2 separate regions of the Homo sapiens genome follow, and region 2 is linked to region 1. Evidence: fine-mapped expression QTL. A gene starts in region 1. The other region holds a variant in brackets. All regions are shown on one strand. Distances are from middle to middle.

What was found.
Region 2: its variant is fine-mapped to the expression of GAS7 in whole blood (TOPMed, PIP 0.92).

The regions. Positions count from the first base shown.
Region 1 is chr17:10,197,352-10,200,250 of GRCh38, reverse strand. GAS7 (growth arrest specific 7) reads left to right here and starts at 1,645. Exons shown (of 14, transcript NM_201433.2): 1 at 1,645-2,043. The coding sequence starts at 1,861.
Region 2 is chr17:10,013,798-10,016,696 of GRCh38, reverse strand. The region is part of intron 2 of GAS7 (growth arrest specific 7); the gene reads left to right. Among named protein-coding and RNA genes, the nearest start is that of RCVRN, 110 kb to the right of the region's middle. The variant T/A (reference allele first, on the strand shown) is at 1,147.

The sequences.
Region 1 (2,899 bases):
CTAGGTGAAAGGCTCTGTGCCAGGGTCTGATTCAAAGCATAGACAGGTGCGCAAGATCTTCAGGCTCTTGGAGCCCGGCCTGACTGGTTTTGTAATGGATATCTAGGCAGTCATAGTAAGAGGTGAAGCTAGAGGAGGCGTTGTGGAGGGCCTGAAATGTACAGGCAGAGAAGTTTGTACCAAATTTAAAAGGCAATAGGGAGCCACAGAAGGTGACTGGGGGAGGGGGGAAGGAGTAGACAGAGGTATACAGGCGTATTAAAGGGTCCAGCTTTTTTTTTTTTTGAGACGGAGTTTCACCCTTGTTACCCAGGCTGGAATGCAGTGGTATGATCTCCGCCCACTGCAACTTCCACCTCCCGGGTTCAAGCCATTCTCCTGCCTCAGCCTCCTGAGTAGCTGGGATTACAGGCACCCGCCACCACGCCCGGCTAATTTTTGTATTTTTAGTGGAGATGGGGTTTCACCTTGTTGGCCAGGCTGGTCTTGAACTCCTGACCTCAAGTGAGCCATTCGCCTCAGCCTCCCAAAGTGCTGGGATTACAGGCGTGAGCCACCGCGCCTGGCCGAGTCCAGCTATTTACAGGCTAAAAAATGTACTTTATTTTATTTCTTTAAAATTTTTTATGGAGTAGACTAGCAAAGAAACCAAGCTTTCTTTTACTTCTGTACGGTCAGTTCAAGGTCAACATTCTGCAGCACTCAGGTTCACTGGTCCCTGGAGAGCAGGGACTGGCCCAAATGATGTTTGTAGTACCTGGCACATCGCATGGAACATGGCAGCCTCCTGGTAATGTTTGTTGACTGACTACATGAGTGTAGACTCTTTAGCCAACCCATCTCGATTTCGGGAGGGCTGGTACCCTGGGCCGGCCTTCCCTCTGCAAGTAAAAGCATTGGTGCTGTTCCTCTCACCGTTCGCCTTTCCTCCATTTATCCCCATCGACTGTTTCCAATTCTATCAACTCCGACCCCGTCTTCTCTCCATTCCGTCCCTCCAGCGTGCCACGCTGCCACCAGGCTGCTGGGCTCAGGCGCCAGGCTTCAAACCTGTCTTTCACCCATTGTTCAGTTTCCGGTGAGACAAGTTCAACCCCAGGTTCAACCACTACAATGACAACCACAAACGATCCCTCGCAGACACCTCGAAGAAGCCGCCCGCACGCCACGGGCCGCCAGGCCTACAAAGCAGGCACAGAACAGAGGGGCGTTTCCATTCCCGCGGTCCCCGGCGGTGGGGGCGCGAGTGGGAGCCCCTCTCCCCAGTGACAGGCCCCTCTGCGAGGGAGCGCGCAGCCCTCCGCGGGCGTGGCCGCCCTGGCCCCGCCCCGGCCCGCCCCCTCGCCAGTGAGCTAACCCCCGCCCGGCCACCCGGCCGCCAGCTCCTCTCCACGGCCGCCCGCCGCGGAGTCCTGCCGCGGGGGATGCTCCGGGTCCCACCTCCCGGGGGAGCTGCGCATTTCCGCGCGCCAGGGCGGCCCCGGCCCCGGTCCCGGCCCCGGCCCCGGCCAGCCCTCGCGGCGGCAGCCCGCGTTCCGCGTTCCCGGGAAGTTGTCTCCGGAGCCCGCGGCGCCTGGGTCTCCTCCCCCTGAGCCCCGCCCCCCAGCCCAGAGCTAGGATCCGCGAGCTGCCCGGCCCGGGGGCGTCGCCGCTCGCTCTGCGAAGCCAACGAGTCTCTGCTTCCCGGCGCGGAGCGCGCGTCCCCCGCCTGCCTGAGGACCCCCGCGCACCCCAGAGACGGCGCGCGCCCAGAGCGCGGGAGCCCGGAGCGCCGGGCGCCTGGGACCCCGCGGAGCCGCTGCCCAGCCCGTGGGGCTCGGCGGGAATGCAGGCTGCGCTGTGAACCCGGGCGCCAAGGCCATGTCCGGCGCTCGCTGCCGGACCCTGTACCCCTTCTCCGGGGAGCGGCACGGCCAGGGGCTGCGCTTCGCCGCGGGCGAGCTGATCACGCTGCTGCAGGTCCCGGACGGCGGCTGGTGGGAAGGCGAGAAGGAGGACGGGCTCCGTGGCTGGTTCCCGGCGAGCTACGTGCAGTTGCTGGAGGTAAGGGGCGAGGGCCGGGGCTGTAGGAGCCGGGGCTGCGGTCCTCGGTGCGCTCGCGTACCTGTTGCCCGTTCCGGGGATGCCGCAGCGTCCCGGTCGGAGGGGCGCCCCGGGGGGCAGCCCTTGCCGGCGCTACCTGTAGCTCCACGCTCCTGGGGGGCAGCGACGGCAGCGGGCGCCCCTCGGGGCGTGGGCAACGCGGACTCGCGGGGAGCTTCCACCTTGCGCCGGGCCTCCGGAGCACACCGTGGCTGCTCTGAGGAAGCGAGAACTTGTTGCCTGTGTGAGTTAAGGAGCAGGCGGGAGCGTTCCCGGCAGTGGCAGGGGCCGGTGAAGGGTCTGGCGGTCTTGGGAAGAGGCACGGAGGATCAGGGGTGCGAGAAAGTGGCACCGACTCGGTCCCGCAGCCCCGCGTCTCCACCCCGGAGTCTAGAGCCTGATGACCCGTGGACGGTCGTGCTGCCTTGGGTCAGGCTGCCTGGCCGCCTCGGGACCACCCACTTGCTGGTCAGCCGAGCCTGCTGGCCACCAGCCCGAGCCCCCTCAGCAGGCTTGATCCTGGGGTGCCGTAGCACCCCCCGCCACTGCCTGCTCCCCTGGTCCAGCTCCCCGAGGCTAAGGCTCAGAACCCGAAAGTGGCTTGTTCCTGGGGTTCTGGCCTGGCCCCAGGGCTGCACAGGACCTGCTGAGGCAAGGCGGCTGGCTGTTTATTGTCTATGTGACAGGCTGTCCTCTAATCACTGAGCTCGCAGTCACAGCCTGAGTGAGACCCGAAGTTTCTAAAGTCCTTTGTGTGTGGGGGGGTGACCTTCCAGGACATCCCCTTTACTAGAAGCCCGCCTGCCCCCAGGATTCT
Region 2 (2,899 bases), 180 kb after region 1:
AGTAATCTACTGGCCTTGACCTTCCACAGTGTTGGGATTACACTATGCCTAAAAACAGTTTTTTTTGTTTTGTTTTTTTTTTTTTTTTTTTTTTGGTAGAGACAGGGTTTCAGTATGTTGCCTAGGCTGATCCCGAACTTCTGGCTTCTACTTCTGCTTCCCAAAGTGCTGAGATTATAGGCATGAGCCACCGTGCTCGGCTCTCTCCTCTTTTATGCTAAAAATAATTCCAGCACCTACCTTGGTCTTACATTCTAGATATATGCCAGTTTTATTCATTACTTGTTTAACTCTTTTTTTTTTTTTTTTTTTGAGACGGAGTCTCGCTCTTTCACCCAGGCTGGACTGCAGTGGCGCGATCTCGGCTCACTGCAAGCTCCGCCTCCCGGGTTCATGCCATTCTCCTGCCTCAGCCTCCCAAGTATCTGGGACTACAGGTGCCTGCCACCACACCTGGCTAATTTTTTGTATTTTTAGTAGAGATGGGGTTTCACCGTGTTAGCCAGGGTGGTCTCGATCTCCTGGCCTTGTGATCCGCCTGCCTCGGCCTCCCAAAGTACTGGCATTACAGGCGTGAGCCACCGTGCCCGACCTTAACTTATTGTTTATCTGTTTGATTGAATCATTCCTTCAACACATAGTTTGAGCCTCAAATATGTACCAGGCAGAGTGAGTCTTGGGATACTGGGGATTTAATAAGAACAAAGTCTCTGCCCTGCAAGTGTTTATCTTCTTATAGTGGGAACAGATTTTAAGTGAAAACCTATTTGATCAATCAGGAAAGGGTTGTGAAGCAGGAGTCCAGGGTGTTTTAAGAGCATGTCACAGAGAGACCCTGGGGAATCAGGGGAGGCTTCCTGGAGAAGGAAGCTGCAGGATGGGAAGGGTAAGGAAGGGCTAGGGGATGGGGAGTGTCTTACTGATGGCAAAGAGTCAGCTGTGTTTGTAGGGATCATGCAGCCCATGAACATCATATTAATAATTTTGCTCGGCAGTCTAAGGGAGAAGGAAAGCAGCTATCTTTCTGATTCTCCTCTGGAATCGTTTCTTAGACTTGTTTTGTTTGGCTGTAGGGATGTTTTAAATATATTTTAATCTGCCTGCCTTTCTGCAGGAAGGCATCTATGAGAATAGCCACTCATGTTT[T/A]TCTTACCTCCTGACTCCTGGAGGCACCTGAGCTTGTGCCTCCTCACTGCTGGGCCAGCTGCATCTATCTGCCTTTCTGCCTGGCCCCTTGCTTAAGCATCTTTGCTCTGTCGCTCTCCAGGTGGCATTTCATCCACATGCTAGCCCAGTGCCCAGAAAGTGCAGTCCCGGTTCTAAGCAGGCCATTCTTCTCTTCCTCTTTGTCTGTCTACCTTTCTTCCAGACGCTTCTAGTCTTTCTCCCTTAATCCCTAATCTCTTCTTTTCCAGAGGGTGCCTGGGGATAATAGGTGTTCTGTCCCCATTTTTACACCTATAACCAGTTGAAAGTCTAATTTACATTTGTATTACCTTGCCTTGGCTAATCTGCTTCTTTTCTTTTCTTTTCTTTTTTTTTTGAGACAGAGTCTCGCTCTGTCGCCAGACTGGAGTGCAGTGGTGCGATCTCGGCTCACTGAAACCTCCGCCTCCCCGGTTCAAGCGATTCTCTTGCCTCAGCCTCCTGAGTAGCTGGGATTACAGACATGCGCCACCACACCCAGCTATTTTTTTGTATTTTTAGTAGAGACAGGGTTTCACCATGTTGGCCAGCATGGTCTTGATTTCCTGACCTCATGATCCACCCCTCCTCAGCCTCCCAAAGTGCTGGGATTACAGGCGTGAGTCACCGCACCTGGCTGGCTAATCTGCTTATTTTCACATCCATTTAGGATTTTATGGATGAGGTTGTCACTGTGCTAGCCACTGAGCCGGGCTCTGGGGATCCAAAATCAAACTAGATGCTGTCTGTGATCTCAGAACCTGCAGTTCTAATAGGGCCAGAGACACATATAAACCTATAAGTGTTACAGGTATTCGTGTGGAAATCTGGGGGCTCGAGGAAGGGAGTAGTCAGCTTGATCTGGGTATTAACCAAGTCTTTGCAGGGGGAGGGGGCGGCCTTGACTCAGGCATTCCAAGCCAAGGTTACAGCATGAGTAAAGACCAGGCAGGAGAGAAAAACAGCGGATGTGTTTGGCATTGGTTAAGGAAGAAAGAGGTGAGAGAGAGAGTCAGGGGCCTTGGGGCATTTTGAGGAGTCAGGTCTTTATCCTGTAGGCAGCGGGAATCCATGGGAAATTTCCAGGCGGTGGCGTGACATGATCAGAATATTGTGGCAAGGCTGCTTGTGCGGCAGAGCGAAGGCTTTAAGGCCGGTAAGCGTGGAGGCCGACAGACTAAATGAGAGGAGAAATAATGAGGTCAAACACCAATTCTACAGCAGTGGCTGGAGAGGAGGAGGTAGAATCTGTCAGACAGGATGTGGCTGTGGCAGGTCAGGGATTGGAAGTGCCTGGATTCCTCCGGGTTTTCTGCCTTGTGTGATGGGACCATACAGTGAGTATAGGGTATTCAAGGGAGGAACAGGTTAGGAAGAAAGAAAAATGAGTCCATGCTGAGTGTGTGGTTCCCTGGGGTGCGTTCTGGGAGAGATGGCTGGCATTTGGATGGCTACGGTGTGACTTAGAGGACTTCTGAGCTAGAGATGGGAACTTGGTGAGCCATGTGGGTACATGGCCTGGCCACTGTTGCGCAGTGACCAACCTGCCCAGCCACAGAGGGTGGCCCAGGATTTGTGTTTCATCAGCAGAGAGGTGAAGTGATGAGGATGTAGAAGATCACCCGGGGCCTTGCAGCACAGGTGTAAGGCAGCAGCCAAGGAGACCTTGAAGGAATTGTCAGAGATACAAGGAATCCAGGAGAAGGTAATGTCA